3 linked regions of the Homo sapiens genome follow. The protein of the gene in region 2 purifies or fractionates together with the protein of the main gene of each other region. This does not show direct contact. Each region holds a gene or a part of one and is shown on either strand. Other genes may lie near its edges.

Region 1 (3,656 bases), on a different chromosome or scaffold from region 2:
GGGATTAACTGTAAACAGGCACAAGAGATCTTATTGGGGTGATAAAAATATTCTAAAATTGCATTGTAGTGATGTTTGCACAACTCAGTAAATTCATCAAGTGTTGAATTGCTACTCGGGAGGCTGAGGAGGGAGGATCACTTGAGCCCAGGAGGTCAAGGCTGCAATGAGCCATGATCATGCCACTGTGCTCCAGCTTGGGCAACAGAGCAAGACCCTATCTAGAAAAAAAAAAAAAAAGTGTTGGAATGTAAACTTAAAATGGATGAATTTCATGGCATGTAAATTACTCTACAACAATTTACTTTAATAAACTTTAAAAAAAAAAAGCTATTATGGTAATCCAGGGGAGAACACACTTAAAAGGTATTTAGGATTTAAAATACTAACATTCACTGAGTGCTTATTATGTGCCAGGCGCTACACTAAGCTAGGCACTTCACTTATTTACTCCTTCACAGGCCTATGAGATAGATACTTTTGTATCTCTATTTTATAGGTGAAAAAACTGAAGCATAGCCGGATTAAATAACTGGCCCTGGATCAGATACTTTATCAGTAGCAGAGGAAGGATTCAAACCCAAAAAGTCTGAGTCTCAAGATCCCACTCAAGGCCAGGCATGGTGGCTCGCATCTGTAATCCCTGCACTTTAGGAGGCCGAGGTGGGCGGATCACGAGGTCAGGAGATCGAGACCATCCTGGCTAACATGGTGAAACCCCATCTCTACTAAAAATACAAAAAATTAGCTGGGCGTGGTGGCGGGCGCCTGTAGTCCCAGCTACTCAGGAGGCTGAGGCAGGAGAATGGCGTGAACCCGGGAGGCAGAGCTTGCAGTGAGATCGCGCCACAGCCTGGGCAACAGAGTGAGACTCCGTCTCAAAAAAAAAAAAAAAAGATCCCACTCAAACATCCCTCAGCATCACTACCCAGTATCTGAGTAGATGTGGGAGTAAAGCAGAAGTCATCAAGGAAGACCCCAGGATTTCCATTTCAAGTAACTGAGTGATCCTCCTCCTGTATCAAGGGTCTCCTTCCCATTTCCACTTCCTGAACTCACCACTCTCTGGCTTTTACCCTCAGTGCAACAGTGAACATTCTCTGGTAGAAGTCACCAATGACCAAATAAATAACTTTTGATATTTATGTAAATAAATATTTTATATTTATAAAATGCCTTATTTATATGGCTTCCCTTTAGCATCTAACACCTCTGGCCACTCCCGTCTTCTGGAAAGCCCTCCCTTGGCTTTTCTGACATCCTGCTGTCCTGGTTCTCCTAGGACTCTGGCCACATTTTATCTCTTTTGCAGCTTCCCCTCTCCTGCCTGCACTTCAATGCTGAAGGGCCCTTCTCATTCTATGTGCCCTTGTACTGGCACTCTCATCCAATCTCTTGATTTCTAACTGTTGTTGATAAACTAATAAATTCCATTAATAAATGCATTCACTCGAGCTTAAGACCTATCTCTCAGAAGCCCGGTCTCCACACTGAAGTGCCTAATGAACACCTTCCTTCTGGCAAACCAGAAGCACCTCACACCCAAAGTGTCCAAAATTGATCTCACGTTTGCCGCATATCTCCTCTTTCTCCTGCCTTCCTTACCTCATTAATGACACCACCAACACCCAGCTTCCTAAATTCAAACATAGGGCTTGTTCTTAACTCTTCTTTCTCTCTCATTCTTAGCTCTGACTTCATCAATCCCTAAATATTTAATGAATTCCTCTCTTCTCTCATCCCATTTCTCCTGCCCTAATTCCTGTACCATCCGCTTAAAATGCAAATGTGATAATGGTAACTCCCTACTTCAAATTCTTCAATAGCTACTGTCTGTTTACAGAAAAATTCAAATTCTTTGTACAGCATTCAAGACTTCATCATTTGGTGATGGCCTAACTCTCCAACCTCAAATTCTACAGTTTTTTTCCTTAATATTACATATCCTGTTCTACGTCCATCTCCTTGCCTTTACACACGCCTACATTGCCCTCTCTCCTGTACCATTGGGAGGGAGTCACCTTTCAAGACGCAGTCTAAACATCCAAGCCTTCACTGACCAAAACAGTTGTCCACTCCATTCCAACCCTGCCTACCTAAAGCTACCATTCCTTGTGCCTGCTGTTCCTTTCTCAAACTTCCAATACAGTCTCAATGAAAGAACAGGAATTAGCCTTTCCACATTCACCTTTCTGCCTTTCCACTAGATTGCAAGCTCCTATATATTAAGTCATTCATTCAACAAATGTCTCCCAGGCCAGGCACTAATCAAGGCCCTGTGATACATCAGTGAACTAAATAGTCTATACCTCAACTGTTACTTGTATCTCAGGGCCCAAACCAGAATGGAAATAAGATGGAAAAGGGAAAGGCTACAGATCAAATGCTGTGTGTGCTCTTTGAAGGAAAAAACTACGACTCCCTTCTTGGAAGACAAGAAGACTTTCTATTTGAAAATGCCAGAGCCAGCTGCATCCTTCTAACAACTGACAGCCACTGGGAATGTTGCTGAAACCCATCTGAGAAACTGAGAAACTGAGACACATCCTAGAAAAATCCCCGTAAGACTGACTCAATTTATACTTGAGAAAAAAAAGAGACCCTGAGTAATATTCAGTTACTGGCAGCATCAAGACCAGAAGCAGTAATTCCCCAATCTCTAGTCCAATGCTCTACTTTTAATAACACACCCCTTCAATCCCATGCATGTAATAAAAATATCACTTCCTCTTAAAGAGGAAAAAATAAGCTTACATTTTTAGAATCTTAAAGCTATTTTAACTGATATATAATATATATAAATCTCAAAAATCAAGTGTTAGCTATAAGCTTTCATCTGAAAAGTTACTATTTTCATCTGAAAAAAATGAAAATAATGTTTACCCCAGAGATTCTGTGGAGGGATTTTAGTGTTTTGCACCATAAACTACAATTGGCTACACAAATATTTGGTAAAGCTATTACCCATATAGCTCCAACCACAGGGACTTTTTAATTCATTTTGGTTCATTTTTATCAACTGGGTCTGAGCTTGTACTGACTCGTTCTCTGTAAGGTGCATGAGGACCAGGCCTGCAGCTATTGCAAGCAGCAGCTGCCTAAGTCCTGGTATGGGTATAGAAGGTGCTTATTTTTCTCTATCTATGCTCTCTAGGTAGTAGGAGTAGAATGTCTCTTTCAACCTAATCACTAATTTCTTGTTAACTTTTTTTTCTTTTTGAGGCCTCTCTGATGTCCCAAGTTGCTACTTAATGTCAAATTCTCACATCAATTCAAAACATTTCCCAGTGGGATGTTTGGTTATAGTTCAGTAAACTTGTAAGCATGCACCAAAGGAGTATATACTAAACCTATTGAAGGCTTGATAAACATATTGTACGGCTGCCTTATTGAGACTCCACCTTTCTCTTGTTCTTACAATCATTCAACAACTGTATCCTTAGGCCCTTCCAAAGCAGCACCCATGGCCATCTACTGTTGCACCTCTGCCAACTCCAAGCACTATTACCCTATTCCCAGTCTGCTCATAGCGACGTAGATATGAGGTAATAGTTTTGTTGTGTTATCATCTGTATCCAAAGTTAATGCTCTCTGAGCTGACCTTCCCATTGCAGTAGTAAGTTCAGACCTGCACACTCACCTGATCTCCTCTGTGA
Region 2 (3,656 bases):
TATGTTTTCTTCCAGATTCTTTCCTTTTTCATTGTAAATGGAGTATTTATCTGGTAGATCTTCTGGAGCTATTTTTTTAGGCAAAGGACAATCAGAAGATTGGAGGGGTCTCATCAGACTGCCACAGGCTAATATATTTAAAGCTAAAGCACCCACAATCAGCAAGCATCCATCCAGTCCATAGAACTCAACCAGCATCCTCTGCAGAGCAGCATATATGAAAAGGCCAACGCTTGAACCTAAAAAGGGAATGGGAACTGTTCAACCTCGTAATCTGAGGCTCTCAGGATTAGAATTTGTAATATCACAATTCAATTTATTTTTTATACTGGCATTTATATGTAACTTCATATTAAAATCATATTAAGAAGATAGAAGATAACAATAATAACAATAATATAGTAATACTGATAGAACATTTAAGAATTAGAATTTGCAGCTCAGACACTGTTAAGCACTTTACATTGCACGATCATGTTTAATGCTTTTACTGATCCCATTGAGTAGGTCCTATTATTATTCCCAATCTAGAGATGAAGTGACCTAGGGCTGGAATGGTTGAGAAATTTGCCATAGATCAAAAATCTGTAAAGAACATAAATAGGATTCACACTCAGTCAGTTTGAACCCAATAGCCCATATTCTTAACAAGTATCATCGGCTGGGTGTGGTGGCTCAGGCCTGTAATCCCAGCACTTTGGGAGGCTGAGGTGGGTGGATCACGAGGTCAGGAGTTCGAGACCATCCTGGCCAACATGGTGAAACCCCGTCTCTACTAAAAATACAAAAATTAGCTGGGCATGGTGACACACGCCTGTAGTCCCAGCTACTTGGGAGGCTGAGGCAGAAGAGTCGCTTGAACCCAGGAGGTAGAGGTTGCAGTGAGCCAAGATTGCACCACTGCACTCCAGCCTGGTGACAGAGTGAGACTCCGTCTCAAACAAGCAAACAAACAAACAAAAAAACCCAAAAACCAAGTATCATCATGAAACTATTTTCTTTGCACTTATTATGTGCCAGGCTCCATGCTACATATTTATTCCAGAAAAGTAAATTTTCATATTTTACTTTTTAAAAATAGTATATTGCAGTTTAAGGATATTTATAATGGCTTGATAGTTCAAATCCATTGCTGAATCACCGGAATGAGTGAGTCATCCTTTTCATGCATTAATACAATTATGAGAAAAGTAGAATTTTTTTAGGGTATTTAAATTACAAAGTATGCTGGTTTATACATCTATGTAACACTGTGAATAATTCACCTTTTTAGCACTGATCACACTAAACACAGAGGGTTGCCAAGTTATGGTAGCCTAATCAATTGGTACTGTTCTCATCTGGTTCTGATTTCAATCTTTAATAAACTGAGCATTTTTAAATGTAAATGTCATTGGGAAATGTCATGTGAAAAATCAGGAAAAAAATAGTCTGAAAAGGTTGATCATATGTTTAAAATGGTCAGTATTAAATTACATTATAATCTCATCAGGATGCCAATAGGACCAAGCTCAGAGGCATCACTGATTGCATGGATATGATTGCTATAAAAACCCATCTAATAAAACAATTCTTCCAAATAGCCAAATGGCTCTGCCTTAGAGTTGTAAGAAAATATTTTCTTTGGGACCTCAGTTGTCCCTTCTTAACATTTTTTAAAGTTAACCCCTTCATTCCCAAAAGGAAAAAAAACTTTGCATGCAAATATTAATGTTTCATGTTAATGTAATGGCAACTAAAATAGTATCTTTTGGGACTGCTAAGAGAGTATCTCTTTGCTAACTACTGAGAAGTAATAACAGTAGACAAATGTAACCCTTTCCTTCTCTCATTAAACGTGGCATATACTGTAAAAGTTAAAAACGCTACAGAAAACACACTGACAGAATTAAAAACAGCAGGGTGACCTCATGTACTGCATTAGTACCCATTAACTATAAATTTGTGATTTTTGCCTATTTCTTTGTACAGATTCTAACAAAGTGTCACATCATTAGATACTTAAAAATGCTCTTGGTGTTTTGAAAGTTCTATATTTTCACACAGAACAAATAAATAAACAACTTTCCTATTCTTGCCAACCAAGTTTATCTGTCAACATGATGAAAATCAATTCAACAGATATTTATTGAACACATAAGATAGCAGAGAATGGGGAATATCAAATTACACATTGGAGGCTAGTTTCCTCAGCCTTCATCCCACAAGAACATGTCTGTGGTTTAGAAAGATACAGGATTTTTTTCCCCCAGGGTATTGAAAAGTAATTTAGAGTTTCCTGGTGGAATTTTGTAAACTGCAAAACTGTGATTGTTAAAAATTTTAAGTTCCAGGATACATGTGCAGGACGTGCAGTTTTGTTACATAGGTAAATATAGCCATGGTGGTTTGCTGCACCTATCAACCCATTACCTAGGAATTAAGCCCTGCGTGCAATAGCTAAAACTGTAATTTTTAATCTTCAAAAAGAGCATCCTAATTTTAAAATAATCATTGTAAAGGGTTAAGTGAAATAAAGCACTAATTATGCTTCCATGCATGTTATACATTATTACAAAGAGAGAAAATATTAAATGGCGTTCAGGGAACACGAAGCAGTGAGAAATACAGCCATGCTTTAACTCATTAATACTAGGGGTCAATAACTTCCCGAAAGGATCAGAGAGTAAATATTTAAGGCATAGAGGGTGTACAATCTCTGTCCCAAATACTCAACTCTGCCCTTGAAGCATGAAACCAGCTAGAGATAATCCATAAAAAAATGAGCATGGCTGTGTTATAATAAAATTTTATTTATGCACGCTGAAATGTAAATTGCACATAATTTTCACGTATTATGAATATTCTTCTTTTGATTTTTTTCATTCATTTAAAAATGTAAAAACCAATTGTAGCTTGTTAATCATACACAAACCAGCAGTAGGCCAGATTTGGCCCATAGGCATTTGTGGACCAACCCCTGTTCACTACAGAGGAAGATCGCTTCCCCCAAACCTTCATTTCATGCCCACATTCCTTTCTTTCAACTAGGTCACAATATTTCAAGTGTTTTGATGCGGGGTTTCTTTTTAATTTTTAAAAAACTCTGCTGTGACTTTTGTTTAGCTTATCATATCTTTGACTGAAGGTGGGTTCATACTTCTCCCTAATTTCCCTTCACCTAGCTCCCTGTGAGTTGAAACTGAAAACTCCTTTAAATCTTGACTGCCCATAGTTGCTTCATTTTTTATTTAGTGTGCTATGGACCAGGCCCCTATGCCCTCCTCTCAAGACTGAGTGAAAAGCAAGATCATCTGTCACAGCATGCAACTCCCAACACCTTCAACACAAATACATTTGGACATTAGGGAAACCTAGGTCAGAATTATAACTGCTAACACTTGAGAGCCCCTGTCATGTGCCTTACACATACATCCCTTTCATATGTCCAATAACCCAATGTGATGGGTACTATTTGTAAATCAAAAATAAAATTCTAAGCCACCCAGCCAGCTGATGGACCCTCCCCTTGGCCAAGGGTATTCTGAAGTAAACCTGAAAAACTAGTTCAGGCCGTGATAAGGTCAGGGGGATGGGGGCTGGATATGCCTCATTATACTCTCCCCTCTTTGGAATTCAAACACAGCTGACCAGTATTAACATTAAAACAGGCACCT
Region 3 (3,656 bases), on a different chromosome or scaffold from region 2:
AATACTTACATCTTATAAAGACCACTTTTTAAAAGGGCATAGTGGTCCTAATGGGAGGTGATGTGGGCAACAGAGTAGACTCGTTAGACTAATGAGGACACAGAATCCAGCATCACACTGTGCCAGATGCACATCCAGGTTCAGTTCTAGAAAACTTACAATAAGCTATTCTGTGAAAACACAGTCAGTGGGTTCTGTATCTGCAGATATGCAAGGTTGACTGTACTGGGTCATTTTATATCAGAGACTTGAATACCCACAGACTTTGGTATCTGTGGGGATCCTGTAACCAATTCTTCTTGGATACTGAGGGATGACTGTACAAAACCACAGTGAAATGAAAAACTCTGGGAGTTAAGTATTATCTTAATACAGAAAGGCAACAGAGCAGTAGAAAGTGCAAGTCTTTGGGGTCATGTCCTAATTCTGTTATTTTTCCAGCTCTATGCCTGTGGGCAAGTTAAATGTTCTGAGCCTCAGTCTTCTCATCTACAAAGTAGGGATAATATATCTATTTTCAGAGTTGCAATGATTGAGCCAAATAAAGTATGCAAACCGCCTGGTACGTTGCCAGACATGTAAGAATTAAAAAATAAAAACTCTTCATTAACACTGCTTCACAGAGACACTGTTTTATCACACCTTTCCCATCTGTAATTATATGTTTTGGGAAACAAAGTAACCTAGGCTGTATTTATCTAGGTTATAACATGGTCCAACAGTACTGCCTGAATTGTGAGTTACATTATATATTTTATTTCACCATGGTAGTTTACAGGTTAGACTTTTTATTTATTTATTTTTTGAGACAGAGTCTCACTCTGTCCTGTCGCCCAGGCTGGAGTGCAGTGGTGTGATCCTGGCTCACTGCAAGCTCCGCCTCCCAGGTTCATGCCATTCTCCTGCCTCAGCCTCCGGAGTAGCTGGGACTACAGGCGTCTGCCACCACGCCCGGCTAATTTTTTGTATTTTTAGTAGAGACAGGGTTTCACCGGGTTAGCCAGGATGGCCTCGATCTCCTGACCTCGTGATCTACCTGCCTCAGCCTCCCAAAGTGCTGGGATTACAGGCGTTGAGCCAAGGTGCCCAGCCTTTATTTTTTAAATCCATTAAAAATATCGATCTTCAAAACCCAATCTTTTTTTTTGGAGACAGAGTCTCACTCTGTCTCCCAGGCTGGAGTGCAACGGCGCGATCTCAGCTCACTGCAACCTCCGCCTCCCGGGTTCAAGTGATTCTCCTGCCTCAGCCTCCCAAGTAGCTGGGATTACAGGTGCCTGCCACCGTGCCTGTCTAATTTTTGTATTTTTAGTAGAGACAGGGTTTCGCCATGTTGGCCAGGTTGGTCTCAAACTCCTGACCTCAGGTGATCCACCTGCCTCAGCCTCCTAAAGTGCTAGGATTACTGACATGAGCCACCATGCCCGGCCAAAACCCCCAAGTTTTAGAAATAATAATACATTCTCACCTCTTCAAGGGAAGATTCCAAATTCATTCCAAAAGCAACTCCCATTAGTCCAAAGAGCGAAAGAGAGAAGGTTCCCATGGTCAGCTGTAGATTCAACCTCATCATCACGTTTCGGTGGCTGGAGAGGAGAACACCTATTCAGATTAGAAGGGCCCACTAACTATATACAGCACATTCATCAAATCTATACAGACCACATGGATGAAACCTACACAACAAAAAAAATAATAATAATGTAGTATAGATGATAATGATGGCGTAATTCCTCACAAAATATTTCCTTAAAAACTTTCTTATAATTATTTTATTAAAAAAACTTAGTTTTATATAATGCTTTCTTACCTGTCCAGATTAATGAAAATAATACTTTGTGAATCATCAATCAGCACCCTAAGCTCACGAGCTGCATTGGAGAGATCGTCAGCCAATCGGTAGTAGTTTTCCAACAGCAACTCCATCTCTTCTGCATGGTCAATCCCAGCACTGCTCTTTTCACTTCAATTAAAAGAGAAAATAATTAACATACTCCCAACATGTGTATCATATACTTAGTGACAAAAACTTCCTAAATTAGTATATAGCATTCAGCTACCAGTGGAAAAGCTAGCCTTTGTCTTGTCTTGTCTTTTTTTTTTTTTGAGATGGAGTTTCACTCTGCTCCCAGGCTGGAGTGTAGTGGCGCGATCTCGGCTCACTGCAACCTCTGCCTCCCAGGTTCAAGCTGTTCTCCTGCTTCAGCCTCCCCAGTAGCTGGGACTACAGGTGCCCGCCACCACGCCCAGCTAATTTTTGTATTTTTAGTAGAGATGGGGTTTCACCATATTGGACAGGCTGGTCTCGAACTCCTGACCTTGTGATCTGCCTGCCTCGGCTTCCCAAAGTGCTGGGATTACAGGCATGAGCCACAGCGCCTGGCTGCCTTTGTCTTTTCTATTGTTGTGGCCAATCTGTGAGTACCTATGTCAACTGATCCAAAACACTTTACAGATGAGTTGAGGACAGAGGTTCCATCCTTATGTAGACCAGTTGGTGTCACTGTATTACATGGCCCCAATCCAAGAGATTTTTATGCAGATACATGCTGCCAGTTACAGGAAAATCCAGATATGTGAATGCAGATGAATTAGTGCAAAGCCAATACCACTATCAGGTAAAACAAAATCCACAACTAAAAATGTCAAGACCATTTCCTTTTGAGGTGTGTACATAATGTGATTTCATATAAAGAAAATGTTTTTGAATGATATCAGTAATAACTTTGCTCCCCTACCCTACCAAGAAGGGTAAGGGGGAATGAAGTACTCTGAAGAGGTACCTGTATCATAAAGCATATTAGAGACAGATTGACAGATTGGCCTAAGCAAAGCAAACAGTTTCTGCTACCATACCTATCGGCTATCTACCAAATGTTATATAGCCCCCTTTATCTTATTATTTCCTTATCAGGATATAAATAACCAATTTTTCAAAGTGCTGTAAGAAAATCTGTACAGACTGTGGAAACTAAACTCATTACAAAGGTGTATTAATTTCTGATACTGCTCTAGAAAGACAATAACAAAATATTTGGGTATTTAAAAGTAAACATTTAGCTGGAGTGTGCACAAGAAGCATAAACAATTTCTAAATTCATAAAAGATAAAAGGTTTATAAGATTAACATTTTCATTAGACTGAACTTACATAATCCATGTTAATGTGTTACTCGTGTATTTACCCCATCTTTTCCCTCCCCCATGTAAATTTCTCTCCCACTCTGCTTCCTAGGTAAGTTATTTTGGTAGATGTATATGCCAATCTGGTGGTCAGTCCCTTGAATATAAAGGTAACTGTGTGTTTATATTCACCACATGTCAGCAGTGTTGGGTATGCAGTATGCATACTCATAGAATTACATTGAATTAGATACGATACTGCACAGGAAAAAAGGGAAACTGGGGATGAAAAATCTCTATATTCTGTAGTCCAGAAAAATGTTACATTCTGTATGAAAAATCACCTTGAAGTGGAAAAGGCAAAAGATTTACTCTAAGGAAATAAATAACAAAGTATAATTATATACTTACAAGACTTGTGGGTCACTCCATTTTGATACACAGAGCTCTTCTAGCAACTCTTCCTCATCCAAGATCTCCAAAATTGACTCTTTGAAAATTTTAATATCTGTTTCTAACTCTGATAGACTATAA

What was found.
Region 1: the proteins of SLC16A9 (region 2) and CHCHD3 purify together in Homo sapiens (affinity purification with mass spectrometry; one large-scale study listed by BioGRID and IntAct). This does not show direct contact.
Region 3: the proteins of SLC16A9 (region 2) and MRS2 purify together in Homo sapiens (affinity purification with mass spectrometry; one large-scale study listed by BioGRID and IntAct). This does not show direct contact.

Annotation. Positions count from the first base shown.
Region 1 is NC_000007.14:133,071,946-133,075,601, forward strand, and holds part of CHCHD3 (MICOS complex subunit MIC19), read right to left. Parts: intron 1-3,656. UniProt on the Homo sapiens protein: Component of the MICOS complex, a large protein complex of the mitochondrial inner membrane that plays crucial roles in the maintenance of crista junctions, inner membrane architecture, and formation of contact sites to the outer membrane.
Region 2 is NC_000010.11:59,654,351-59,658,006, forward strand, and holds part of SLC16A9 (monocarboxylate transporter 9), read right to left. Parts: intron 240-3,656; coding exon 1-239.
Region 3 is NC_000006.12:24,416,391-24,420,046, reverse strand, and holds part of MRS2 (magnesium transporter MRS2 homolog, mitochondrial isoform b precursor), read right to left. Parts: intron 3,651-3,656; coding exon 3,534-3,650; intron 1,964-3,533; coding exon 1,811-1,963; intron 1,587-1,810; coding exon 1,469-1,586; intron 1-1,468. UniProt on the Homo sapiens protein: Magnesium transporter that mediates the influx of magnesium into the mitochondrial matrix and regulates magnesium metabolism. Also permeable to calcium, sodium and potassium ions.